Linked DNA regions of Homo sapiens. The protein of the gene in region 4 interacts with the protein of the main gene of each other region in a pairwise test. Each region holds a gene or a part of one and is shown on either strand. Other genes may lie near its edges. The genes, in order: ENOX1, TOX4, SAXO1 and ZMYND19.

What was found.
Region 1: the proteins of ZMYND19 (region 4) and ENOX1 interact in binary tests that used the Homo sapiens proteins (3 or more experiments, as listed by UniProt).
Region 2: the proteins of ZMYND19 (region 4) and TOX4 interact in binary tests that used the Homo sapiens proteins (3 or more experiments, as listed by UniProt).
Region 3: the proteins of ZMYND19 (region 4) and SAXO1 interact in binary tests that used the Homo sapiens proteins (3 or more experiments, as listed by UniProt).

Annotation. Positions count from the first base shown.
Region 1 is NC_000013.11:43,783,953-43,791,375, forward strand, and holds the start of ENOX1 (ecto-NOX disulfide-thiol exchanger 1), read right to left. Parts: upstream 3,021-7,423; 5' UTR 2,700-3,020; intron 2,254-2,699; exon of another isoform or gene 1,676-2,253; intron 1-1,675. UniProt on the Homo sapiens protein: Probably acts as a terminal oxidase of plasma electron transport from cytosolic NAD(P)H via hydroquinones to acceptors at the cell surface.
Region 2 is NC_000014.9:21,487,185-21,494,207, reverse strand, and holds part of TOX4 (TOX high mobility group box family member 4), read right to left. Parts: intron 6,758-7,023; coding exon 6,515-6,757; intron 5,619-6,514; coding exon 5,358-5,618; intron 5,036-5,357; coding exon 4,805-5,035; intron 1,913-4,804; coding exon 1,832-1,912; intron 1,701-1,831; coding exon 951-1,700; intron 1-950. UniProt on the Homo sapiens protein: Transcription factor that modulates cell fate reprogramming from the somatic state to the pluripotent and neuronal fate. In liver, controls the expression of hormone-regulated gluconeogenic genes such as G6PC1 and PCK1.
Region 3 is NC_000009.12:19,030,200-19,037,183, forward strand, and holds the start of SAXO1 (stabilizer of axonemal microtubules 1), read right to left. Parts: upstream 3,011-6,984; 5' UTR 2,710-3,010; coding exon 2,672-2,709; intron 1-2,671. UniProt on the Homo sapiens protein: May play a role in the regulation of cilium length. Stabilizes microtubules at low temperature.
Region 4 is NC_000009.12:137,587,499-137,594,598, forward strand, and holds the start of ZMYND19 (zinc finger MYND domain-containing protein 19), read right to left. Parts: upstream 3,015-7,100; 5' UTR 2,766-3,014; coding exon 2,715-2,765; intron 2,690-2,714; exon of another isoform or gene 2,140-2,689; coding exon of another isoform or gene 1,906-2,139; intron 1,221-1,905; coding exon 1,161-1,220; intron 326-1,160; coding exon 219-325; intron 1-218. UniProt on the Homo sapiens protein: May be involved as a regulatory molecule in GPR24/MCH-R1 signaling.

The DNA.
Region 1 (7,423 bases), on a different chromosome or scaffold from region 4:
TGGAAGCAGCTGTCACTGCTTTGTTTTTCATTCACAGTAGGTGGTTGCCAGGCAACAAAATACTATTGTCTGTTTCCATGATCTATTGGCCAATTCTACTGGTGATAATGCTTTCTACAGTTTAAAACAGGGCCACCTTTTGGACAAAAAGAAATGAGAAAAAATTCTAAGGATGACAATAACATATATACGAATAAATACACTGAATGTACCCTAAAATTACGTGTATAAATATACAACTGTGTGCTGATAGACATACAAATATTTTGCATGTATGCATATGTGATTATATACATTCTCCTACATACAAACCCATCTAAATTTAATAGGCCCACAACTTGAAACTAAATCCCTTAGGGAAATCAAGGTATGAACTAGAGAAATAAAAACACAGAATTATTTTCTTAACAATAGCAATAATTTCCAATTTGTCACATATATCAAATCCTGTTTCTTGAATAGGAGGTCCTCCAGTCAGAAAAGCAATCCTGTCTACTTATATAAAAATGATAATAATGGAAAGCCTTTACCATCTACTTTAGAATCATGTAATACGTTTAATATGTTGATTTACTATCATATGCTACCAATGTGTACAAAGATAATTCAAAGAGTGTTGCTGTTTACAACCAAGAATCTTAAATTTTATTCATCTTAAAAATAATTGAATTGTTCTCCATGGAATAGCCTCATGTGATTCCCCACTTTGTTTTGATATGGGTCCCTGGGGAACAACAGTCATGCTATGTTACTCTTGCATATTTCACTAGCTTACAAATAAAATAACACACAGTGTACTCAATATAAAGTTGTCAACATTAACTTGCATCAGTTGCTGTTTGTTTCACATTGACAAGGCTTCTAAAGATAAGAATTACAATATTCTTAGATGTACAGACACAACATCAAAACAGCCTGAAGGAATTAAAGCTGGAAAATGCTAGAGGCAATCACGCTTTGAAATGAAGAGAAATCAGTATCATTTATACGTACACATATATTTCTTCAAAGGCTCTAAATAATGCCAGAACAATATGCATTTTATGCAATGCTCATCCGTCTTCCCTCACAATATTCCGAAAGCACTTTAACTGTTTAACGCATCTCCTCCAAGAGGGCTTTCACTTTTTCAAACTCATTATCACTTTCAAATCTGTATATTACAAGAAACTGGAATGAGCAATATCCATTACATGAATAGACATTATTAATATAAAGTCTCTATCAAAGTGGCAACGCTAGTAAAACAAAAGCAGAGTGTGTTAACCATAAACTAAGTACCAGCCAATATTACCACTTTGCTTGACAGAGCCGTCTCCAACAGCACGCACCCACCTCTCGAGCGGGCCCACCAGCTCAGCTTTCCAAGCTCGCTCACCTGCGTCTCTCCTCCAGGAATCAATTTCCTTCCCACTTTCTCCACCCTCTTCAGATCCCTTAAGCACGCTTCATTGCTTTCTCCAAACTACCAGACTCAAATCTGCAGCCCAGTTGGCCAGGAACCTTTCCATACGCACGTATTTCCTGCATTCTCCTGGGTCTGCTTTTAAAAATTGCTACCACCAAACAAATGCAATCTTAACAAAATTGGGATTACAAAGCCAGTTTTTTTCATGTAATGTTACAGCAGTGAAAGATTGAGGGAGAGAAAAGGAGAGAAGCAGGAGTGTATCTGGGTGAAGAAGCGTGGCTCAGTGGCTATACAGTGAGACGCAGAGATTCCACAGAGCTGGGCTTGCCCACCTGTCGACCCCACTTTCCCCATGTGCTCGCCGCGGGATGACAACCACAACACTCCAGAACCACCCCCCTTCCGAAAGAGGGCGGGGTTACGCCTTCAGCCAATCAGGACCCGCGAGCCCCGGGTGTCCAACCTATGGGGTGGCTGTGGCCGTGCAGGGGGAGGACGTGGGGTGGTCTGGGAGGGGCCGCGTCCGTGGGAGGCTCGCACGTGTCGGGTCCGGAGAGGCGGGGAGGCGGCCGGCGTCCAGCGGCCGAGGCGCGGGCTCTGCACCCTGGCAGCGGCCGAGTCCGGCTGCCCCAGTGCCTCCTTTACCTCGCGTTGGGCCAGGCAGGGCGCGCTCCCGCCGACGAAGACCTGTCCAAGGTGTCCGAGCTCCCCGCGAGAGGGGACAGTCACGAATAACAACAGTACCCAGCGCAGACTAGGCGGGGAGGAAAGTTTCCGGCCCGCAGCAGAGCGGAGTCCGCCAAGGCTGGAGGAAAAGGGATGCAGAGCGGGAGGGTGAAAACCTGAAAGAAGAGGGCAGCGGGAACACTGTGTGGGCAGGAACGGGTCCCGGGGGCGACGCCCGCAGGGGGAGACGGGTGCGGGGTGCGCTGTCCAAGGTGCAGGGGAGGTGACTGGCGCGCGGCGGGCGCGGAGCCCGGAGCTGACACTGGCTGGCGGGCGGAGGGGAGAGCGGGGAACAGCTGTCTGGGGCGCTGGGCACCCCCGGGCGCGTAAAAGTGAGGGAGCTTGAGACGGGGCACGGCGGGGAAGGGCGTGGGGGCTGCACCGAAGCCCCCACGCGTCCACGCACCCCTCCTCACCAGCCTCACCTCTAGCTCCACTCCCCTCCCCCCTCGCCCACTCCCCTCTCAGTCTAGATCCAGGTGCCGTGGCGGGGGTGAGACCAGAGGACCCCGGCTCGGAGCCCGGACGCCCCAGGGAGGCTGCGGGCCCCGGAGCTGCTTACCTGGGGCCGCCGTATGGGGAGCGGAGGCAACCCGCTGCGCGGAGTGGGGCGCCGGGCGCGGCGCGGCTCCTCCTAGCCTCGGCGTCCTCCTCCTCCTTTGCTTCTCCCGGACTCTGTCCCGGGCACGGAGCTGGGAGACGCGGCCGGGCTGCAGTCGCCGTTCCCTCTGCTGCCGCCGCCGCTGCAGCAGACAGAGGACGCCCCGTGGCGGCTGGAAGCCTGTGTGAGTAGCGGCGCCCGGGAGAGCGGGGATCTGCTGAGGGGCGCTGGAGACTCCGCGGCTGGAGGCGCGCGGGCGTGCGCACGCGCGCCTGCGAGTGTGAGTGTATGGGTGCGCGCGCGCCCACGGGGTGGGGGAGTCGCGAGGGGAGGGGGAGAGAGGCCGAGAGATGCTCGTAGGGACCGAGGCAAAATTCTACGACCCCGGAAATCCGTAAACGCGGGGAAGGAGGATCGAACGCGTGTCTCGCTTGGAGAAGCTGCCCACGGGGCGGCAGCAGAGGAGGAGGGGAAGTCAGCGAGGCGCGCTAGGGCTCCGGATCCCAGCCCGGCAGAGCCGAGCGGAGCGCGCAGCCACCGATGCAGCAGAGGCGGCGCCCGCAGCCCACGGTCGCGCTGCCCCCTCTCGGGAGGGGCCGAGGCCGCTCGCTCCCGCCACCGCCGCCGCGGTCGGGACTGCTCTACTGGGAGCGGGGGAACCGAGAGAGGGACCGCACGGTTGCTACGGCGACCTTGGAGGGGCCGGGCCCGCTGAAGGGCCAAGAGAAGAACCCGGGCGCACGTGGCCGACTCCAGGCTGGAGCGGGCGTGTTACAGGATTGTGGGCTTGGGGTAGACGGTGGAATTGGGCCGCGTGGCCTGGGCAGATGATGCGGGGTGTGCGGCCCAGAGTGGCTCGGCCGGGGTGCGGTCAGCATTCAGGTTGGTAAGGGTGAGGGGATCCTAACCCCAGGTGACATGTTGCCTTTTTTTCCTCCTTGGAGGCTACTTTTTCTCAAAGTTACCCACTTCCCAGGTAAGAATGCCGGCCTCCTCTTTGTTAGGATTCAACTTAGCTGTGCAGGCATCTAAGCAGTGCCTCCTTAGAGTCAGGCTCGTCCAAGAACCGCTCCCACCACCTCCCCACACACACCCACATCCCCCGATCCTCCATCCCAACTACATTGTAATACTTCAGAAATAAATGTTTAAAGCACATTTACATTCTCTGCCTCTTAACAGATATATTGTCTTAGTAGTATACTTTTCCTTGCTTATTTTAAATTCTGAGTGGGATTTTATTCACACAAGCATTTCTTCAAGGGTCGTAAGGTCTGGGTAATACTTGAAATACCCTTTCTGGCAGGAATCCTCAATGCAGGGATTGTGTTTTGCACACTTTTGCATGCCTTCCAGTGCTTAGCATAGTACTCTGTACTTTGTGAGTTCCCTGTAAATGTTGAATGAATGACATTGTTTTCTAGCTTCACGTAACCTGAAGGCAAAGACTTGGATGCTGGGAAAGTCATTACCACCCCACTAGGCTTGCCTGATTTTAACTTATGCCATTTCCTTGTGTGTGGCTATTTTTCCCCCTGGCGGTCAGAACCCCAATGCAAAGAAAGAAAATAATACTTATCCATTGTGCACCCTTAACAAAGGATGCATGTAGAAGCACTCTGCAGGGACCCCAGTGGGATGCCCTGGGTGTGAGGGGGCCAAAGCTCAGAACCTAACCTCTCAAAATGTGAAAGTCAGTGTTCACCAGCAGTTTATACTGTCCCTTCTAGAGCAGAAGGATGGGGAAAACAGTTTTAAGAGAAATACACTTTTGTTTTTTGTTTTTTGAGACGGAACCTCGCTCTGTCACCCAGGCTGGAGTGCAGTGGCGCGATCTCGGCTCACTGCAACCTCTGCCTCCCGGGTTCAAGCGAATTCTCCTGCCTCAGCCTCCTAGTAGCTAGGATTACAGGCGCCGGCCACCACGCTCGGCTAATTTTTTTTTTTTTTTTTTTTTTTTTTTTTTTTTAGTTTTTAGTTTTTAGTAGAGACACAGTTTCACCATGTTTTCCAGACTGGTCTCCAACTCCTGACCTCAAGTGATCCGCCTGCCTCGGCCTCCCAAAGTGCTGGGATTACAGGCATGAGCCACCGCTCCAGGCCAGAAATACACATTTCTAATAGCTTATCAGGTACGCATTTTTCTCCTGTAAAGAGTAGTGTTCATGGACACTGACCAATACATGCAGGGTCACCCCAGACTGCTAATTCTGCTGTCTGGTGTAGCACCAAGTCCACATCCTTCGACCTCGGTATTTCTACAATCATCGTCTTAGAAGCAGAAGTCTTCAATTTTGCATTTCATGCTAAATTTCAATTCCTTTGAACTCAGGCCCGCCTATGAGCTGCTTCTCTCTCCACTCATGATACCACAGCTGTGAAATATAACTGAAATAAAGTGAAAATTAAAATGGATTTATTTGGGTACCGTGTGTTCTTTAGTGGGGGTCCCTTTAACTGATTTATCTACCTTCACTCAATTGACAATCTTCTTAGAAGACATTTGTTGTGATATTGGAGCTTTTTTATTAGGTTGAAAGCTTACTTAAATTTCTCACTTGAAAGGAAGCTCTAAAACTTGCAAAAGAAGCAGAAAAACTCTGATACCGAAAATGGACCCTTGACAGCCAACCTATAGAATGGGTATGAGTCAGAATTTTCCAAAACAATTTTAAAGCTTCATTTTCCTTAGAAAGTTGCTTTTAGGGTTTTGTTGGGCTCAGAAACTAATACCGGAAAATATGGCACTTTGACATGCTGGACTGAAGAAGCAGCCTCAAAGTCTCTCTGACCCTCTCTCTGCCTCCTGTCTCTCAGTCGTCTGTCTCACCCAAAGCACAGGATGAAATTGTTCTCTGAAGGTCTTTCATCTGCCTAGAAACCAGATCTGCCAAAGAAGAACGCACTTGCCTTCCCTGAGTTTTTATTAATCTAACTCACGTCGTAGGAAGAAAGATTGAAGCCTGTCAACACAACTGGACATACTTTTGTCACACTCCTCTGCGGGCCCAACAGACTTTATCCCAGGCCATTTTATGTTCACCAAGCTCATTGAATTCCACTAAAAATTCTTTACTATCCCCCTTAAAATCATCCACATTTCCCTTTCTATTCTTCCCCTATGAAGAAGGGTATATGAGCATCTGTGTACCCCACTGGGTTATTGGGCAATCATTCTCCTGCAATTCCCTTGGATTATGCACATGAAAATAAGTTTTGTATGTCTTTTCTCCTATTAATCTGCTTTTTGCGAGGTGATTTTCAGTGAACCTTCAGAAGGTTGAAATCCCTAGTTTCAACAGCTTCCCAAGTGCTTGTCTTACTTGGTGGGTGGGAGGAATGTTAATAAAGCTGTAACTTCTCTGATGACCACCAAAGGGGACAGTCTTGTCTTCGTAAAAACAAATATAAGAAGCCAGCACCTAAGAATGTAGGCATATCACAAGCTTAATGTATGTTAACTTAAAAATAATGTATGTTAACTTAAATAAGTTAATGTATGTTAAAAGGTAATAGAAGGAAAGAATAACAACATAGATATATAGGTTTCTGACCAACTTAAACATAAAAGTTTGGAGGAGCAAATAGGGTTATATGCTATCATCCCCATAGCTCCTTCTGCTACTTAAGTACTAGGTAATAATAAAATGTACAGCTGAGAGGTTCATTTTTATTTGTTATTATCAGCCGGATTTAAAATCAATAGCATATTTGTAAAAGTTCTATTTTTCTTCCTAAAGGGAATGTTCCTTAACATAACTGCTTTTTTCAGTTTGCAGCAGTGCAGTAAACTAGTCAATCATTAACTTAAAAACACAGGATGGTGAAGGTGTGGGGCCTGTGGAGAAACACTCTAAACTTATTTGATCACAACTGTTTTGTCAGTCTAAACTAAAAAAAAAAAAAAAAAAAAAAAAAAAAAAAAAAAAAAAAAAAAAAAAGGCTTTCTACCTTTAAAGACTGATGCATTTAGACTGTGAGATGTACCGTGAATTCCAAAGTCAACTCCTCATTCTAGGAGCCCATTGCCCCAAATCCTCTGAAGTGAGAAGGCAGGGACCGTTAGCTGAAATGCTGTTGATTTTAGTGGCTGTGAGCACACATAAGGATACAGGTCATTTCCCTTATAATTAGGTCCCAGATCACTTAGTCCATTAGAGTTTTAAATGATAAAAAAAAAAAAACACCTTGACCTGCACCTGGAAAGAAAGTACCAACACAGTCCAGAGTATAGTACAGGAACAAGAAGCAGCCTCAAGTCATCCTATTTGTATCCATGTCTTTAAACATTGCCTTATTCCACATACTATTTAGGAAAACTTAATTCTGACTGGAGATCAGACATCTTTAGGAAGGTAAAAAAAATCAGAGAAAAAAATGTTATAGTTTATACTAAGCAAAACAAGACCGGTTTTCTTTCTTAGTCATCATTGCTGACATTTGGGGTGCAGGTAGATATACTTGGTGTCAGTGGTTCTAACAGTTTATGGAGCTGTGTATTTCCAAGAAACTGAAGAAAGCTATGGATCCTTTCTTCAGGAAAATGAACCTATTAATGTATAAAAAATGTTTAAATAAAATTTCAGGGAGTTAAAGGAACTTCCTCTGAAGCTCACATTAAGAGCTACTGCCTAATATAGATTAATTGCACCATGACATTTTATGGCTAAAGGGAAAAGAATTGG
Region 2 (7,023 bases), on a different chromosome or scaffold from region 4:
TGAAAAGCTTTGCATGTCCAAAGTTTAGGATCCTTGGGTAACAACTCTGAATAATAACTGTTTAGGCTATATCCTGTCCAGTTGAACTAGTGACCTCTGCTTAGTTAAGGAGTGGTCTGGGGCAGAAGACTGTCTTAATGTATCTCACTAAAAACACTATGGGGCACACGGTGGCTCACGCCTGTAATCCCTGCACTCTGGGAGGCCGAAGCGGGCGAATCACGAGGTCAGGAGTTCAAGACCAGCCCAATGAACATGGTGAAACTCTGTCTCTAATAAAAATACAAAAAATTAGCTGGGTGTAGTGGTGGGCGCCTGTAATCCCAGCTACTCGGGAGGCTGAGGCAGGAGAATCACTTGAACTAGGAGGTGGAGATTGCAGTGAGCCAAGATTACACCACTGCACTCCAGCCCAGGCAACAGAGCGAGACTCCGTCTCAAGAAAAACAAAACAAAACAAAACAAAACAGGGCGGGTGCAGTGGCTCACACCTGTAATCCCAGCACTTTGGGAGGCCGAGGCAGGCAGATCACCTGAGATCAGGAGTTCGAGACCAGCCTGACCAACATGGAGAAACCGTCTCTACTAAAAATACAAAATTAGCCGGACATGGTGGCACATGCCTGTAATCCCAGCCACTCGGGAGGCTGAGGCAGGAGAATCTCTTGAACCCAGGAGGTAGAGGTTGCAGTGAGCCGAGATCGCACCATTGCACTCCAGCCTGGGCAATGAGTGAAACTCCATCTCAAAAACAAACAAACAAAAAAAAAACAGTATGAGTACCTTGGGTAAGAGAAGTCAACTGCTGCAAGGAACTCCCATCTGCAGGATGTTTTGTGCTCCTGGTTGCTGGGCATTAAATGCTAGTAGCAACCCCCACTGTTATTGGGTCAACCAAAAACATTTTTATACATTTCCACTAGACTAAAGACTTAAAAACAAAGGCTCACCTCAGGAACTACATCTGTGATCATCTCACAGATAGTCTCAGGAGAAGGTGCCTCCACTGTATGGGCCTCAGGGCTGTTGTTCATAGGCCGCTCAGGACTACTTTCCACAGTTGGTGGGACTAAGGTAGTCTGCATTTTCAAAGTGGGTAGAGGCACACTCTTGATCTGCAGAGGAGGAGGCTGTTGCTGTAAATTGATTCGAACTTTCTGAGGTGGAGGCTGTTGCATGGCCTGGAGTGGAGGAGGCTGCTGCAGAATGGTAACTTGCTGCTGAGTCGGGGGCTGTGGCATCTGTTGTAATGGAGGGGGCTGTAGTCGGGGTGGAGGCAGTTGCATAGAAGCAGCAGCAGCAGCAGCTGCTGCTGCCTGCAACACTGACCGAGTGACAATCTGGGCTTGTTGACTGGGCTGGATAGTAGCTGTACTGGTTTGGCCTAGTTGGAGCCCCCGGGAGGTCACCACTGTGGCTGGGATAACAGTAACCATCCCTCCTTGAGACATAGTAATAGAAGAGGGCAACATTTGTTTGGTAATAATCAACTTGGTGATATTGGGCTGACCCCCAGCTCCAGAAGATGCCTGGTTTGCCACATAGGATGAAAGGGTGGAGTTAACAACAATGGATGGGGACAGGGCAGGGGGCTCTATTGAAGCTGGTGCTGGAGATGCTGGGTCAACAGTAGCCATAGGAGGTGGAGAAGGAGTTTGTGATGGTGGTGCTGGATCCAATTCCACTGTTTCCACAGTGGCCTAAAAGAAGACATAAATCAATCTATCAATTAATCAATCACTTGGTGGTATTTACTTCTTAAAACTGCTAACAAACACTTCCAAAAAACTTCTTACTGGTTTAAATATTCATTCTATCCTATCCCTCTTACCTGACACTCCTGGTTGTCTTTGTAAGCAGCCAGTGCCTTCAGATACTCTTTCTTGGCAGCCTCAGTTTTCCTCTTATATACCTGCAAAAAAGAGACTTTAAAAAAAAAAACAAAACTCCCCATACTCTTAGGAAAGACTGATAGTTCTGTATTATTTATCAATGAATGACAATTCATCTTAGTCTAATCACTGACAACCTCTATCAGTGAATTCAATTCTGAAAGCTAACAGTCAAGACAACCTCCATGGCAGACTCACTCCACTGAGCATACCTCTGAAAGACAACCAATCGACAGGAGTCTGGCAAGAATAGCTACATTTATTTTATTTTGCTACATTTATTTTATTTTTTTTAAATTTTTTTTGAGACAGAGTCGTGCTCTCTCGCCCAGGCTCGAGTGCAGTGGCGTGATCTTGGCTCATTGCAAGCTCTGCCTCCCAGGTTCATGCCATTCTCCTGCTTCAGCCTCCTGAGTAGCTGGGACTATAGGCACCCGCCACCACGCCCGGCTAATTTTTTGTATTTTTAGTAGAGATGGGGTTTCGCTGTGTTAGCCAGGATGGTCTCGATCTCCTGACCTTGTGATCCGCCTGCCTCTGCCTCCCAAAGTGCTGGGATTACAGGCGTGAGCCACCACGCCTGGCCGAGAATAGCTACATTTAAGGCAAACATCAACCCATGCTCACTTCTGTAACAAAAATAAACCCTAATCTGCCAGGTGCGGTGGCTCACGCCTGTAATCCCAGCACTTTGGGAGGCCAAGGTGGCCAGATCACGAGGTCAGGAGATTGAGACCATCCTGGCTAACCTGGTGAAACCCGATCTCTACTAAAAAAAACAAAAACAAAACTAGCCCGGCGTGGTGATGGGCGCCTATAGTCCAGCTACTCAGGAGGCTGAGGCAGGAGAATGGCGTGAACCTGGGAGATAGAGCTTGCAGTCAACCAAGATTGTGCTACTGCACTCCAGCCTGGGCGACACAGTGAGACTCTGTCTCAAAAAAATAAATAAATAAATACAAAATAAACCCTAATCCAAAAACTGTGTCTTAGCCTGGGACTGTGTCTAACCAGTATATTTTCCCTTATGGAATGTGGTAAATTGTTTGCAAAGATGGCCACAACAACTCCTCCCATATGACCTTTCTCCCTTCAAGAGCTGAAGCCTATTTCCCCCTCCTTTGAATCTGGGCTAGCTCTAAAAAGTTTTTAAACTCTAAATCCAAAAAAGAAAAAGAAAGAAAAAAAATAGGCCAGGTGCGGTGGCTCACACCTGTAATCCCAGCACGTTGGGAGGACAAGGCAGGCGGATCACCTGAGGTCAGGAGTTTGGCACCAGCCTGACCAACACGGTGAAACCCTGTCTCTACTAAAAATACAACATTAGCTGGGTGTGGCGGCACATGCCGGTAATCCCAGCTACTTGGGAGGCTGAGGCAGGAGAATCACTTGAACCCAGGAGGTGGAAGTTGCAGTAAGCTGAGATTGCACCACTGCACTGCAGCCTGGGTAACAGGAGCGAAATTCCATCTCAAAAACAAACAAACAAGTAATTCTAAATCCAAACTTGGTAGTGGATTTGAGAGTTAGCCACAGCATGCAGCTTATCAAGTAATAGCCTAATTTTATAAATGGGGGAAAAAATGAGACTTAGAAAAGTTAAATATCTAAAAATTGAACAGAAGGACACTACATGAGGAATTATAGGAGACATTATTAGTGGAAAGTACATGGGAAGAGTTAAAGAACCTGGATTGTGTCTCAACTTTACCACTTAAATGTTATATGACCTTAACTGGGCAGTGGGCTCCAGTTTCCACCTTAAAAGCGGGAAATGGTAGCTATTTTTGAGAGTTATTGTAAAGATGCAGTACTTCTGTAACAATTATTATTATTTTTTGAGATGGAGTTTCACTCTTGTTGCCCAGGCTGGAGTGCAATGGCATGATCTCGGCTCACCGCAACCTCTGCCTCCCGGGTTCAAGCAATTCTCCTGCCTCAGCCGCCTGAGTAGCTGGGATTTGAGGCATGCCACCACACCCGGCTAATTTTTTTGTATTTTTAGTAGAGTCGGGGTTTCAATGTCAGCCAGGATGGTGTTGATCTCCTGACTTCGTAATCCGCCTGCCTCGGCTTCCCAAAGTGCTGGGATTAACAGGCGTGAGCCACCGCGCCCGGCCTATAACAATTATTATTTATTTATTTGAGCCGGGGTCTTGCTCTGTCACCCAGGCTGGAGTGCAGTGACACAAACATGGCTCACTGCAGCCTTTATATCCTGAACTCAAGCAATCCTCCCGCCTCAGCCTCCACAGCTGGGACCAAAGGCACATGCCACCACACCCAGCTAATTTTCTGTGAGACGGGGGTCTCCCTATGTTGCCCAGGATGGTCTCGAACTCATGGGCTCAAGCAATCCTCCTGCCCTGGCCTCCCAAAGTGCTGGGATTAAAAGCATGAGCCACCACACTCAGCCTATTAATAATTTTTAAATAGGCCGGGCGCAGTGGCTCATGCCTGTAATCCCAGCACTTTGGGAGGCCGAGGCGGGTGGATCACGAGGTCAGGAGATCGAGACCATCCTGGCTGACATGGTGAAACGCCGTCTCTACTAAAAATACAAAAACAAAATTAGCCCAGTGTGGTGGAAGCGCCTGCAGTCCCAGCTACTCGGGAGGCTGAAGCAGGAGAATGGCGTGAACCCAGGAGGCGGAGCTTGCAGTGAGCTGAGATCACGGCACTGCACTCCAGCCTGGGTGACAGAGCGAGACTCTGTCTCAAAAAAAAAAAATTTAAATAGGTTTTCTGGAGTGAGTGTATGGCTGCAACTTCGAAGACAAGGGATGATATTTAAGTGTCATTAACAAACAGCTGATATTAGATAAGGACATGTAAGAAAAAAGAAAACCTCAATTTTTATCTCTTTAAAAACTTCTGGAACATTCACTACTAGTTCCTCAATATTTGCTCACCTGTTTTTGCTCCTCTCCAAGACTATCCCACATGGAGGCCACAATTTTTGAAACCTCACCAAAAGTGGCATTAGGATTCTGTCCCTTGATGGCAGCCTGTGTATCACGAAAGAATAAAGCATATGCTGAAACTGGTTTCTGAGGTTCATTAGGATCTTTCTTTTTTCTCTTCTTTGGGGCCTTCTGCTTTTTCCCTGCTTCCACCACGACTGTCTTCTGGCTGGGAAGTTGCTGTAGGAGAGAAAAAAGAGAGAATTACACAATGGACAATGACAAGTATTATGTCTGGAAACTAGCCACATGTATGGAATTTTCAGAAATGCTAAAAATCATAGAAATAGCATTAAAAGACATTAGTCAAATATGGAGAACCAATAAGAATAGGGATTGAGAGGAGAATTATAAACTGGAAATTGGGAGGTGGAACCCCATACCCAGAAAACAGCAGAGGAGATGGCACGGCAAGGGTAAAGAATACTGATTAGGCTCTGTATCCCAAAAATTTTATCCCAGACTATCACAGCAGAATTGATTTTGACAGGGAATGCCTCACCCTCCGGAAATCCTCAACACCATCCTCGTGAAGTGAACTAGTAGGTGAAGGGGTGGTTGAAAGACGATCTTCAGGTGACTGGGCAGGTGGCAGGATGGTGCCACCCCCTAGGCTCAAACCCAGCTGGGAACTCAGTTCTGACTGATCAATGGTGGTCAACTGGCTATGCCCCATCAAGCCAGATGTCATGTCTGTCATTGGTACATCAATTGTAACAGGTGGGTTGGCACTATACTGAGTTCCTATAGAGTGGTCCAAGTCCTGAGAGAAGCAGAAGGACTAATTAAACACTAAATATAAAAAAAACCACTTTTCCCCCCTAAATTTAAGACAGCTTATAAATTCCCTGCCTACCCAAATTGTATCATTTAAAATACAAAACATAAAATAGTCTTCAAAAATGAAAATAAAAAAATAAGCTTTTTAAAAAAGTACAGAAATTAATGAATTTACTTCTTTGCACTCAAAAGAAGAACTAAAAATAATCAGAGAAGTCGCACTGTTGGACAAGTCAAAGAGCTATCAACTTATTCAGTAATATATAGGTAGTGACAACACATTGAGTAAAGAAAAACTTCCTATCTGTACTCTCCCAAAATAATAGCTTTTAAAATTGTAATACATAGGCAATCAGCATAAATAAGGCCAATATTAAAGTCTGGCATCAAATATAGAGTATGAAGATGTGCTTACTGGTTCGATGTGCTGGAAGCCCAATATACTGATTTATATTACATACTAATCCACAATACTATATTTGGCTCAGACTTTTTTTTTTTTTTTAAGCTCTGTTCTGCTGGCTGCTCAACGTGATTCAGGCCATTTTTGAATAAATCCCTCCGTGTGCCAGCTATCACATTCAAATTTGAATCCTAGGATGTGAAGGCCATAATAAAAGCAGAAAACACTTTTTCCCAAAAACCACAATAAATAATTTTCAAACCAGACATTGTACAATTTTAAATTATTTTTCAAGTAAAATCTACCTACATGGTAAATTTCATTTATTCAGGTGAAATTAAGTCTTTGTTGGTGAGCCTTTAGCCACAAGAAGAGAAACAAGTAATACCCAAGTGTAGCAGGGAATAGAGTAACTTTGTCTCCCCTAATGCCATGCCCATTAGCTGGGGTAAGCCTGACAATGTCTTGCCCCTTACCATGGTCAAGCCCCCACTCAGGAGCCCCCCGCCCTGCTCCATCAAGCCATGGGTCATGCCCACAGGCATGTCCAATGTCTGGACCCCATACTGGGCTGAAAAACTGCCATCCTGTGAAGAGGAAGGGTCTGCCAGGTCATCAAAGTGGCCAACCACATCTGAGACAGCCAATGAGGGATCAGAATCCAAGGAGATAGGTGGGATTTCAAATTCCTCATCACCCAAGCTTGGTGTATGGAATGTCTGTAGGGGAAAAAAGGGGGAAAAGAATTAGTGAAAAGAGGAGAAATGGCATACTACTAAGTGAAGAACATAATGGGGTACTAGAGATTCTCAGGATGCATTTTTTCTGCTTAGGATCCTATTTTATAATCAATTTCTTAGAACCTATTATTTTTACCAATCTCTCTTCTGATACCCTTGGTCATTTGGTACATTCAAGGCTGCTAACATCAGTCACAATTTTCAATTCTTTTATCTCTTTTCTACCATTACCGTCTCTTTTGTCT
Region 3 (6,984 bases), about 120 Mb from region 4:
TCAGCAGGTCCACTCAGGGGATGCCAAGAAACCTGATCCAATTCAAGGTGTAGTTTCATGTAAGGGAATCATGGGAGAAAAAAAAACTAGGAAGGTAATTTAGGACCAGTTTCCAAACACAAAAATGAGAGAACCAGGGAGGTTGTAACCGGAATAAAAGGGAAGGGACCAATTAAAGAAAGATTACAATGGAGGAGGGACCCAGACTTTAGAAAAGAGTCAATGTGCCAGGCTCGGTGGCTCACGCCTGTAATCCCAACACTTTTGGAGGCCAAGGTAGGTGGATCATTTGAGGTCAGGAGTTTAAGACCAGCTGGCCAACATGGTGAAACCCCATCTCTACTAAAAATGCAAAAATTAGCCCAGCATGGTGGTGGGTACCTGTAATCCCAGCTACTTGGGAGGCTGGGGCAGGAGAATCGTTTGAACCCAGCAGGCGGAGGTTGCAGTGAGCAGAGATCGCGCCACTGCACGACAGAGTAAGACTCCATCTCAAAAAAATAAAAAAAATAAAAAAATAAGAAGAAGAAAAAGATTCAATGTTCTGTTTGAGGGAGAGTAAGAGATGATTCAAAATTTTCACCCAGGGTGAATGGAAGATTGCTGGCACCATGAATGGGGCAGATACCAGAATAATGTTTGAAGGTTGTTGAAGTTGAGATTAATGAGACAGATGGATCACCAAAGCACTTTGAGAAGATGAAAATGAAACTGGAATTCAGAAGACAGGAGAAACTATTGGCTGAAACCATAAAATGGAGGAGAAAATACAGGATGAGGAGAGAAGAAAAGGAGAAGAGACACAAGAACAGACTCTGCTTCCAATGGAAAGTGACTCCTTTGCAGGGACAGAATGAGAACAGAGTCAGAGAAGGAACACCCAAATGAGTCATAACCCTACTGCAGGGGCAGGAGGGAGACTTCTCACTATATATGCTCTGCACCTCTTAATGAGCATTCTGCCTTCCTACCTAGACTGCACGCTGTGCAAAGATGGAGACTATGTCTTATACATTCAATCCCAATGCCTAGAACAATGCAGGAGGACACAGGAGGGTAATGTAAAGCATCCCAGTAGAAAGAAGGCCTTAGTGGCTCATGCCTGTAATCCCAGCACTTTGGGAGGCCGAGGCAGGCGATCACCTGAGATCAGGAGTTCAAAACCAGCCTGGACAACATGGTTGAAACCCTGTCTCTACTAAAAATACAAAAATTAGCCAGGCATGGTGGCATGTGCCTGTAATCCCATCTACTCAGGAGGCTGAGGCAGGAGAATCACTTGAACCCTGAGGCATAGGTTGCAGTGAAGCGAGATGGCACCACTGCACTCCAGCCTGCGCAACAGAGCAAGACACTGCCTCCAAAAAGAAAAAAGAAAGGCGGCCTTAGAAAAAAAGGTTTTGCTTGGTAACATGTAGTCCTAGACTATACACTGCTCTGGCCCCACTTAACAAAGCTCAAAAGCAAGACCCACGTTTGTACATGATCTAGTTCAGTGAGTCCCAGTCCTAGCAAATGGCCAGAATCACCTTTAGACAGTTGACAGGGCCCACTCTGAGAGTATCAATTCAACGGCCTGAGCAACTGATAGTTTTCAAACTCCCTGTGTGATTCTAATCAGCAGCCAGAGTTGGGAACCATTTATTGATGCCAGAGATATAGAAGGTTGCTGATCCAGTTTTTAGAGTGCCCTTTAATTCTCCACACTACTGATACCATTTTTATATGCATGTGTCATATTTGCCCTTTTTTCAGATTTCAGGACACTAACATATTAAGCACAATCCATGTACCAGGACTCACATACATGATCTTAACTCTTACAATAGTCCTATGAGGTACGTATTGTTGGTACAGATGAGGCGACTATGACCTGGAGTTTAGTTACCAATCTAAGATCCCACAATTAATGACAGCCCAGGAAAGGTGACCTCAGAACCCTCTTGCCTGTTGCTCCTCTGCTGCCCACTCCCTGCCCCAGCCAAGCAGAAACCCAGCTGCCCTGGGAAGCAGATAGAAGGAGCCTCTAAGAGATCATGTGAGTGACAGCAGACCAGTCAGCCCGTGGGACTCTGACTAAAGTCCATGATTTCCCCCAGGACCACCTTTACTGCGCTTCCACCCAAAGATGGTCCTTAAAGGTTAGAAGGGAGACCTGGCAGGCCAGGCGACTGTGAAAGTAATGTTTTCATTATCCTTATTCAACTCTACACAATGTGGAACAAGTTTTACTAATACCTTATACTTCTCTGACAAAGTAACAATCTCTCTGAATGAGAAATTCAGTTATACTACAGGAATTCTCCTCCCATCCTATCACTTTCCCAAAAGGAGCAAGACTGGTCCCACTGGGCCAGGTGTTCTCCCTCCTTGGCTGACACTTTCTGGGCTTCAGGGAAGGGAGTGCAGACTGCGCGGTCACGCCCATTTTCAACCCTCCTGCAGTTCTCAAGTGAAGCGGCACAGAAGGCCCGAAAACAGCCACATTCGCCAGAACTGATGTGGCGTCCGCGGGCACAACGCTAGTTGACACAATTGTGGCTTAAAAAACGTAGCAAGTGGACGAACCCACCGTGATGCCGCCTGATGAAGCAGCTGGGGGAGGCTTCCCTTCCTCGGGAGTCTGAAAACCCAGGCTCCCCCAGCCTTGCCCTGGGCGTGGCCACCTTACCCGCAGGAGCACAGTTCACAGATGCACTTCGTCTTCATAGGGGCGATCCTGAGGCCCTGACGTCCCCTCAGAGCATCGCCAGCTGCAGCCGACTCCTAGACCCCAACCACCTGTCTTGGGGCACGCCCAGGCTCGAGGGTCTTGGCAGGTGTTCTGTTTACTCGAAGGAAAATTTAAGTGGCCCTTTTGCAATGTCCTGTCGTCTGTTGCCCTCCTGGAGCTGGCCTAGCGCGAGGTAGCAGCAGGGGGCTTGCACGCGCGCCAGCCCGGGAGACCTCACCCTGCACGCCACCGCCCCGGCCTCCGCAGTCCAGACTTAAGCACCTGGAGCGGCTGACTGGGCCCCAGGAAGCTGCGGGGTCCGTGCCCAGGTAGCCTCTGTGATGTCGCCAGGGCCAGGAGGGGCACGCCTCAGGTGGCAATTACATCACAAGAGCCGCTTGTGAGGTCGGGAAGCTCCCAGCACCTCACTGGCAGGCCCAGGACAGGGGTTCCCCGGTGAACCTTGGAAAAACCTGAAAAAGGTGGAAGTCACTAGAAAGCTCCTGGTGCAGTAAACGGTCACACGTGCAGAAAAGCTGAAAACTCCCTCACCATCACCTTGGGTGGCATTTGCTATCTCTAGGATCCATGGTGCCCCCTCTTAGGGGAATACAGCCTTGACTTCCAAAAGGCTTGCCTTGAACAGGGTTTCCAGATCTTCCTGTGGAAACCTAGGCCTTTGGCTTCAGATGTCTGTTAGAATTGCTCTCACCCACAGACCTGCGCTCTTGAGAACACAGTGGTTTAAGAGCGCCCAGGCCTTCACTGCTCAGGTGGGTTCTCAATCACTTCTCCAGATGCTGGTAATGATGCCTTGAAGCAGGCGTTCTCAAATTCTAGTTGGCATCAGGACCACCTGGCTTGATGAAAACCAGATTGCCAGACCCCACCCCCAGTTTCTGATTCAGTGTTTCTAGGGTAGGCCAAAGACTTGCATTTCTTACAAGCTCTCAGGTAATGCTGGTTCTGCTGGGCCACGGACCACACTTTAAGAACTACAGCTTTTGAGGTTCCTTTACACCCCCTGGAATAGTGTTTCTTCAGCTTACCTGATCCCGAGAGCACACCCCCACCCAGAAGTCTCCCTTGCATCAAAACCTCTAGTCCGGGAATCTAGCTTCAACAAGAAGCCAGGTGATTCTGGTCATGAAGCAAGTTCAAAAGACACTGCTCTGGCCAGTTGTTTGGACTTAAAACATTTTGACTTCCTGCTTATGGGAAATGGGAGCTTAAAGTATTGACAATCTTTATGCTTTTCTTTCCTATGCTTCCTAACTCTTTCCATTCATTTTAGTGAATGAGTCAGTCAGAGGCATCTTGGACTGCAAGACACTTAATATTCAGAGGGTTTCTTTTTGTGTGGGGGGGGTTAGGTTTTTTCCTTCAGTAATAGGCTCTAGAATAGAGGTCAGCAAACTATTGTCTGCAGTTGGCCACTTGACTCTATCTGGCCATTGAGCTAAGAATGGTTTTCATATTTTTTAATGGTTGAAAAAATTAAAATAATAATATTACATGACAAATGAAACTTACCTAAAATTCAAATTTCAGTGTCTGTGAATAAAGTTTTGAATTTTTTCAAAAAATTTGTGTAAACATTCCCGATTTTGCCTCTTGGCCCACAAAAGCTAAAATATTCACTATCTGACATTTTACAGAGAGAGAGTTCCAACCCCAGTTATAGGAAGTCAGCAAGGTAGATTCAGACAGGAGCAAAGCTTATTGATCATTCTTAAGAACAGTGGGGTGGGAAGCTGCTCCTTGCCTTCCCAGTAGGAAGTCAGAACTCTACAGGGGAGGATGGAAACATGGCCAGACAAAAAAGAGGTGGGAGCTATTGGAAGTCAAAGCAAAACCTGCATGCCATCCATTGCCATTGACAGAGAACATCACACAGTCCTTACAGAGGAAATACAGTGCTGGACACCAGCCTTCTCTTGATGGCTGCCTAAACATTATCCATAAATCTTTCAGCAGAAGAATGCCTGTTCATGCCCCCTGCCATTCAAACTGCCCTTGTGGGTGGCCACCTTGTCAACAATCATGGTACTCCCCACTTCCTCCATCCATGCCCTCAATAGAGGGTAGAGATCTTGAAAGATGAAGATGGTGTGGACAAAATAGCCTCAACAATGATATACCTAAAGATCAGTGCTAGACAGTAGGGACAACCTCCCCTCACCTAGTTACACTTACTGTCCATCTTTTGTTACATCCAGCCAAACTTACCCTGACCCATCTGATATGGTTTGGTTCTGTGTCCCCACCCAAATCTAATCTTGAATTGTACTCCCATAATTCCCACATGTTGTGGGAGGGACCCAGTGGGAGATAATTTGAATCATGGGGGCGGTTTCCCCCATACTGCTCTTATGATAGAGAATAAGTCTCATGAGATCTGACGGTTTTATCTTCATTTTTCTCTCTTGCCACCCGCCATGTAGGAAGGGTCTTTCACCTCCCACCATGATTCTGAGACCTCCCCAGCCATGTGGAACTGTAAGTCCAATTAAACTGCTTTATCTTCCCAGTCTCAGATATGTCTTTATCAGCAGCATGAAAATGGACTAATACAGTAAATTGGTACCAGCAGAGTGGGATGCTGCTGAAAAGTTACCCAAAAATGAGGAAGCAACTTTGGAACTGGGTAATAGGCAGAGGTTGGAACAGTTTGGAGGGCTCCGAAGAAGACAGGAAAATGTGAGAAAATTTGGAACTTCCTAGAGACTTGTTGAATGGCTTTGCCCAAAATGCTGATAGCGATATGGACAATAAAGTCCAGGCTGAGGTGGTCTCAGATAGAGATGAGGAACTTGTTGGGAATGGAATCCAAGGTGATTCTTGTTATGTTTTAGCAAAGAGACTGGTGGCATTTTGCCCTGTCCTAGAGATCTATGGAAGTTTGAACTTGAGGGAGATGATTTAGGGTATCTGGCAGACGAAACTTCTAAGCAGCAAAGCATTTAACAGGTGACTTGGGTGCTGTTAAAGGCATTCAGTTTTATAAGGGAAGCAGAGCACAAAAGTTTGGAAAATTTGCATCCTGACAATGCAATAGAAAAGAAAAACCTTCTCAGCAAACTAACACAAGAACAGAAAACCAAACACCACATGTTCTCACTCATAAGTGGGAGCTGAACAATGAGAACACATGGACACAGGGAGGGGAACATCACACACTGGGGCCTGGCGGGGGGTAGGGGGCTGGGGGAGGGAGAGCATTAGGAGAAATACCTAATGTAGATGATGGGTTGATGGGTGCAGCAAACGACCATGGCACATGTATACCCATGTAACAAACCTGCACGTTCTGCACATGTACCCCAGAACTTAAAGTATAATAAAAAAAAAAAAAAAGAAAGAAAGAAAGAAAAAAGAAAAGAAAAACCTGTTTTCTGAGGAGAAATTCAAGCTGGCTGCAGAAATTTGCATAAGTGACAAGTAGCCAAATGTTAATCCCCAAGACAATGGGGAAAATGTCTCCTGGGCATGTCAGAAATCTTCACAGCAGCCCCTCCCATCACAGGCCCGCAGGCCTAGGAGAAAATGGTTTCATGGGCCGGGACCAGGGTCCCCATGCTGTGTCCAGCCTAGGGACTTGGTGCCCTGCATCCCAGCTGCTCCAGCCATGGCTGAAAGGGGCCAACATAGAGCTTGGGCCATGGCTTCAGAGGATGCAAGCCCCAAGCCTTGGCAGCTTCCGCATGGTGTTAAGCCTGTGAGTGCACAGAAGTCAAGAATTGAGGTTTGGGAATCTCCGCCTAGATTTCAGAGGATATATGGAAATGCCTGGATGTCCAAGCAGAAGTTTGCTGCAGGGTTGGAACTCTCATGGAGAACCTCTGCTAGGGCAATGTGAAAGGGAAATGTCCCTACTGGGGCACCACCTAGTGGAGCTGTGAGAAGAGGGCCAGCATCCTCCAGACCCCAAAATGGGAGATCCACCGACAAATTGCACTGTGTGCCTGGTAAAGCCACAGACACTCATTGCCAGCCCATGAAAACATCCAGAAGGGAGGCGGTACCCTGGAAAGCCACAGGGGAGGAGCTGTCCAAGACCATGGGAATTCACCTCTTGCTTCAGCGTGACCTGGATGTGAGACATGGAGTCAAAGGAGATCATTTTGGAGCTTTAAGATTTGACTACCCTGCTGGATTTCAGACTTGCATGGGGACTGTAACCCCTTTGTTTTGCCCAATTTCTCCCATTTGGAATGGCTGTATTTACCCAGTACCTATATCCGCATTTTATCTAGGAAGTAACTAGCTTG
Region 4 (7,100 bases):
TGGGCAAGCTCCCAGCAGAAAGTCCACTTGGTGTTTGAAGTGCAACATACAAATCATTCGTTCCTTTGGGTTAGTGGTGAAGGACACAAAAATAACTGCGAGATTCAGGGAAGGCAAGGCAGGGCTTCAGCGGGGCAGGGGGCTCCAGGCGCCCTGTGCCATCGGAGCTCACCCAGGAGCCCAGTGGCGGGGGGCAGAGACAGCTTGGAAACACCCACCACAGCAGCTCATGAAGGAGTCTCCCAGAGCCCCTTCCTCGGTTCTTGTCAAAGGCATAGGCAAATATCTTAGCACCATTTCCATCTGCATCCACTTCCATTCGGGCCTGAGAAGGAACAAGGGAAAGAGCTGTTAAAAAACCTCCAATTCTCAGCAACACTTCAATTCCCTCTTAGAAAAACCAAGTGAAACAAGCAAGCCAGAGGGACAAATGCCAGCCCTGTCCCTGAGACCCTGGGGAGTGCAGAGCTTCCCACAGGCACATGGCTCCCAGGGGCCAGCGTGGCCCACCACCACTCTGTCTATTCGAGCAAGAAACACTCACAAACAACTCTGCAAAATACAATGGGACATAGACAAATACATTTTCCTACCCTTAAAAAAAGCCCACGGTGCAGTGAGATAGAGAACCCCCTGGAGAGGTCACTACTGTGAATGTGTGGGGCACAGAGATAAAGGATGGTGAGGGAGGCCAAGCTCAGCGGCAGGAATGGAAGCTGGGAAGAGGCAGGAAGACCCCATGAGAGCAGAGAACGGGAGGCAGCTGGGCAGCCAGGAGGGACTGCTAAGGCAGGCCCAGCAGAGGTGGCTAGCTCTAAAGAGCAGGGTCTTCGAGCTAACAGACATGGTCCACGTGACACAATCACAAACATGAGAACATTCCATTTGCTTTCAAGAGGAGCTGGCAGCTGGGGTGAAAGTGAGGAAGACCACTGTCGCCAGGCCATGTGGGCCACAGTGGGCTCCAGTGGCAGCAACAGCCAGGTTCTGCAGGGCCACGGCTCGAAGTGGGGCTGACGGCTCAGGGCTCACAGGCCAGCACCAGTTGTCCACTTGTGGGGCCGCCTGCTCTTGCAGCACAGGGGAGAGAGCTCGTTCCTCGTGACCCTCCTGGGCACTGACCACGAGCATCAGGGGAGGGAACAGCCATCCTTACTTACCTCAAAGGAGTAGCTCTCCACCAGCGGGATGTCCTGCTCATCGATCAGCGTGTATTTGGTCTGGAAGTTAACCACATGTTTCAAATCATTACATTTGGGATCTGCGTGAGGTGCAGTAACCTTATAACCAGAACAGGCAGGAGCCTGTTGCATTTTCCTGTGAAGTGGAAAGTAACTACAGGCCTCTTCAGACCAAGACAGCTCAGCACATGGGGGCCTCATTCCACCGTTTGGGGTGGTGCAGTCTACGACAAAACACAGGCAGACAGGTTAAAAGCCAGCTGCCCACTTTAGTCTGCGCCAGAGGAGCTGGTATCAGGCTTCATCCTCGCAGGGCTAACCCCAACAGTGGCACTGAACATTCAACGCACCAATAAACCTAGGCAAAGACTGTTTCACTGAGCTGAGGGAGGGGCCGGGGCTGAGGCAGAAGAGCCAGAAGGTTTTGATTAGGGTGTGTTTATTAAGCTGAGCTACTCACTGATTACCCTTTTTAGCTTTTTGTCCATCTGAAATGTTCCAAAGAAAAGCTGTAAGGGATGACAATGCCATCATGGGTGGAGTTAGAAGGGGTCTCTGGTCTCCGACCTGACTGGAGAGCCCACCCTTCCCTGGTGGAAAAAAGCCTCCTCCCCAGCAGGCCCTGCCTATGCTCTTGCAGCAGGGGCAGGAAACAGGAACAGGTCCCAGAACGGGCCAGTCTCCCTCTTGGCAGTTTTTCTTCTGGGATCTGAACCTGTTTTACCTGACGCCGCCTGACACTGCCTCGGCTCCTCTCTCCCACCAAAAGCCGCAGCCGCTGGTGACGGGAACAGGGCTCCCATCCGGGTAAGGACCCTGGCTGGTGCAGCTGCACAGGTGGCTCCGAGAAACCGCCAAGCCTCAATGCCCACAGGTGCCATGGAATCCCCAGCCTCAAACGTGGAGCGTGGGGGCCAAGTAAGAAGAGAAGTCGAGGAAGGCCCTGAGTCTGCAGCATCAGGGCCCAGGCTTCTTCCTCTCTGCTCCGAGTCTGAGGCTCAGCCTAACGTGGCCAACCCCTGGCAGCGTTAAAACGAGCCTGAAGCCCTGCTGAGAACTGGGAGGCACAGAAGAGCCCACACCAGACCCGCCTCGGCGAGAGGTGTGGAAGTGGCGCTGCCTCGGAAAGGGCGCTGTGTTTAAACCGTGTGGCCGCACTGGCAGCCCGGACGCCGCGCTAGGCCCCGGATCGCCGACACCACTGGGAGGGCTCCGGGAGAACGCGGCTCGGGCTCGAGCCACGCATCTCCGCACCCGGCTCGGGACAGGGCCGTGGCCTCCACCTCCGGCAGGGCAGGGCCGAGGGTGGCCAGGTGCACCCCAGAGCCGAGGGGTGCGTGCCCGCCGGCCTGCGAGAGGAAGCTGCACCCGCGCGGGGCCAGCAGCCGGGCCCGCGCAGCGTCCCCCGCCCCGCTGGGGCCCATCCCGGGCTCCGCGCCCCCGCCCCGGCCGCCGCCCGCACAACCGCCCCCGGCCCCGCGCGGAGGCCTGGACGGGCGAGACGGGCCGGGTCGCGGGCTCCGCGCCGCTCACCTTCCCGGCCACCCGGCCGAGCCGCACGATACCCAATTTGAAGTCGGTCATGGCCGGGCCTGCGCTCTCGGCCGGCAGCGCCGCTCCCTCGGGAGGCGCCGAGCGGGGGCCGGGGCGAGGCCGCGGCGCGCCGGGACAGGACGGGACCGGAGCCGGGGTCGGGGTAGCAGCCAGGCGGGCTCCGGGCGGGACGAGGCTGGGCCGGGCTCGGGCCTCCGCCGCCGCCTCGCGCCCGCCGGACCTGCCACGCGCCGCCGCCGCCGCCGCCACCGCCACCGCGCGCACCACAGCGAGCGGAGCGGAGGGGCGGGGCGCAGCCCCGGACACACCCCCCGGCCCGCCGCCGCTCGGCCAATGGCTAGGCGCGCACGGCGCCGACCGGCGCGCGCCGCCCCGCAACAACCAATAGGAGGAGGGCGAGTGCGCCGGCGCTCTGGGGAGCGGGGCGAGCGCGGGGGAGGGGCGAGGCCGGGGGCGGTGCCTGCGCGCGCCGACGTCAGTTTCGCGGGAAGCTTTGTGCGGGCAGCGGCGCCGCGCCTAGAGGGGCAGTGCGGAGTGTGGCTGGGGACTCGCGCCGGGTCCGTGGAGCTCTGCGAGCTGGCTGCTTTTCGCCTCCCTTGCGGTAGCCTCCGTAAGCTGTTTCCCGCCGCCGTCCTGGCCCCGAGCGCGGAAGGAGGAGGTGGACGGAGCTCGTGCGGGGCCCTCTGGGCGGGCGGGGAGCGGGCGAGGCGGGCTAGGAAGAGGCCGTTGCCGCGGGACGCGGGTGTTTCTGGAGAGACAGCGGACGCCCGGCCCACGCGACCCGGAGGGCGCGGCCTCCCGCGCAGCCTTCTCCGAGCCGCCGGCTCTTCAGCCTCGGGGGCGGCTGACCTCCAGAGCAGCCTGGTCCAAGGCGTCTGGAAACGGAACTCCAGTGAGGCCCATTAGGCTCCGCGGGAAAGCCGAGACCCGCTCAGGGAGGGACTGGGTACGCCGTGGTGGGCAGCGTGGCTCCCCTGCAGCCTGGAGCGAACGGGGCTAGGTCCTGCGTCCTGCTCCGCCGGTGTCCAGTCGCCCGTGAGGAGGCCTCACCCTGCCTCAAGGGCGACTCCTGCACCTGAGGAGCTGCACAGGCTCCTTTCTGGCTTGCTGGGTTCCGTTTTCTTTTCTTGCTTTTTTTTTTTTTTTTTTTGAGTCAGAGTTTTGCTCTGTCACCCAGGCTAGAGTGCAGTGGCACGATCTCGGCTCACTGCAGCCTCTGCCTCTCGGGTTCAAGCGACTCTCCTGCCTCAGCCTCCCGAGTAGCTGGGACTACAGGCACGCGCCACCATGTCCGGCTAATTTTTGTATTTTTAGTAGAAGTGAGGTTTTTCCATATTGGCCAGGATGGTCTCGAACTCCCAACCTGAGGTGATCGGCCCACCTCGGCCTCCCAAAGTGCTGGGATTACAGGCATGAGCCACCGTGCCCCAGCCTGCAAAGGGTGTACATGAGTGAGCCCAGACGTTCCATCTCTGGGTCCCCTGGTACTTGCCAGTACCCCAGACACCCTAGAGGACTGAAGGGGCTGATGAGTCCTGGCCTGCCTGAGACACACATTGGGGTTCAGGCTGGGCCTTGCTCAAAACATGCCTGTCCGACCGCGCGCGGTGGCTCATGCCTGTAATCCTAGCACTTTGGGAGGCCGAGGCGGGCAGATCACGAGGTCAGGAGCTGGAGACCATCCTGGCTAACACGGTGAAACCCCACCTCTACTAAAAATACAAAAAAAAAAGCCGGGCGTGGTGGCGGGTGCCTGTAGTCCCAGCTACTTGGGAGGCTGAGGCAAGAGAATGGCTTGAACCCGGGAGGCAGAGCTTGCAGTGAGCCGAGATCGTGCCACTGCACTCCAGGTTGGGCGACAGAGCGAGACTCCGTCTCAAAAAAAAAAAAAAAAGTACCTGCCCTACCAATCTCAACCTCATGGAGTTGCAAGGGTGTGATGAGATTATGAGCAACTGCTTTGTGAAAAGAAGTGGAGCTTGGTGGGTGCTCCCTAGGGTAGTTGAAAAGCACTGGTGTCATAGTCCAGGTTCCCCCAGAGGTTGACTTGAAATGGATTCGAGTCCAAATTTTGTCCGGGCCTGGTGGCTCATACCTGTAATCCCAGCACTTTGGGAGGCCGAGGCAAGTGGATCACCTGAGGTCAGGAGTTCAAGACCAGCTTGGCCAACAGGGTGAAATCCCGTTTCTACTAAAAATACAAAAATTAGCGGATGTGGTGGCACACACTTGTATTCCCAGCTACTTGGGAGGCTGAGGCAGGAACATCGCGTGAACCCAGGAGGCAGAGGTTGCAGTGAGCCAAGATTGTGCCACCACACTCCAGTCTGGGCAACAGAGTGAAACTCCGTCAAAAAAAAAAAAAAGTCCAAATTGTTAGCTTGAGAGAAGACCCCAGGAGACACCAGCAGGAGAGTAGGGGTGTGAGGCAGGGAAGGGGGTGCTACCAGTCCAGTTACTGTAGCAGGCGCTTGTGTAGGAACCATCCTCAGAGTCCCTCCCCGAGGGCCAGGGGAGCCAAGGCATTCACCCTTCACCCTGCTGCAAGGGGACCCAGCATTCACCTCTCACCTTGCAGTCATTGGTTGGAGGCTGTTCCTGGCAAGGTGACTTCTTGGCTCCAAAGCCGAGAAAGACCTGCAGGTGTTGACACAGCGCAGTGCTGCGGGCAGTGCCCAGCTGGCTTGGGAACTCATACCTGGTCCACCACAAGCCGGCTGCTTTATCTACACATTCTACCCAAGTATGAATGTGGCACCCCTGCCTCTGTGTCCTGCGAGGGTGGAATTATGTAACGCTGGGGCGGTGCTTCCTCTCACTGCAGCTTCCCTCTCCCAGGGGCAGGCACCTTAAAAAGAAGCCCTTGACTCCCCCATCCCTTTCCAGCCACTGCCTCATTTTCCTACTTCCCATCCCAGCAAGAGTTTTTAACAGGTTGTCTGTACTTGGCGTCTCCTCTTATCTCCTAGTTAATTCGTTTTCTATCACTTTATAACAACCAACCACAAAAGAGCACCCATTATCTCACGGTTCTGTGCATTAGAAGTGCAGGTGGGTTTGACTGGCTTCTCTGCTGCAGGTCTCAGGGCTGAAATCAGGGTGTCAGCTGCCTCAGCTCTTAGCAGGGGCCCTAGGGGAGACCCGGGCTACAGGCTCCTTCAGGTTGTTGACATTCATCACATGGTTGTATGAGGTCTCCGCTTGCTGGCTGCCGGCCCGGGGTTGTTCTCAGCTTCTAGAGGTCGCTCACATCTTCAAAACCAGCAAGACTTTCTTTTCTTTTTAGACAGAGTCTGGCTTCGTCATCCAGGCCGGAGTGCAGTGGTACAATCTCGGGTCGCTGCCACCTCCGCCTCCCGGGTTCAAGTGATTCTCCTGCCTCAGCTTCCCGAGTAGCTGGGACTACAGGTGCCCTCCACCATGCCCAGCTAATTTTTAAATTTTTAGTAGACATGGTTTCACCATGCCAGCCAGGCTAGTCTTGAACTCCCGGCTTCAAGTGATCCGCCCGCCTCAGCCTCCCAAAATGCTGGGATTACAGGTGTGAGCCATTGTGCCCGGCCAAAGCCAGCCTTTCTACTACTTCACGTCTTTGATCCTTTCTGTCCCATTTCTCCCACCTTCAGCTGGAGAAAGCTTTATGCCTTTAAGTGTTCCTGTGATTAGATTGGGTCCACCCAGATAAACAGGATAATCTCCCTATTTTAAGGTCACTAATTGGTAACCTACTTACATCTGCAAAGTCCCTTTTGTTATGTAACATAATATTACAGGCGCAGGCATAAGGGCGTGACACCTTTGGGGGGCATTCTGCCTACCGCCCAAGTCTCCTGACAGCCCACTCCAGCTGGGCTTTCACCCCTCCCACTGCTGAAACTGCTCCACACCAATGAACAAAATCAATGAAAGCCCCTGCTCATACTCGAGTGAGGGGGGCAGAACATACACGTAATGAGGAACCATACACCGCGTTGGCCAGTGAGAAGTGCAATGGGGAGAACAAGTCCATCACCATAAGGCAGTCAGAGGCCCTGCTGCAGGGGTGGGCAGAGCCGTCCTCTGAGAAAACAGCATTGGAACTTGCAGTGGAAGGAGACAGAGTGAGCCGTGTGGCTATACAGGGCAGAACATTCTTGGCAGAAGGAACGGCCTGTGCAAAGGCCCTAAGCTGCGACATGTCTGGCATGTTTGAAAATAGAGAGGTGGGGCTGGGTGTGGTGGCTCACTTTGGGAGGCCGGGGTGGGTGGATCACTTGAGGCCAGGAGTTCAACACCAACCTGGCCAACAGGGCAAAACCCTGTCTCTACTAAAAATACAAAAATTAGCCAGGTGTGGTGGCACATGCCTGTAATCCCAGCTACTCG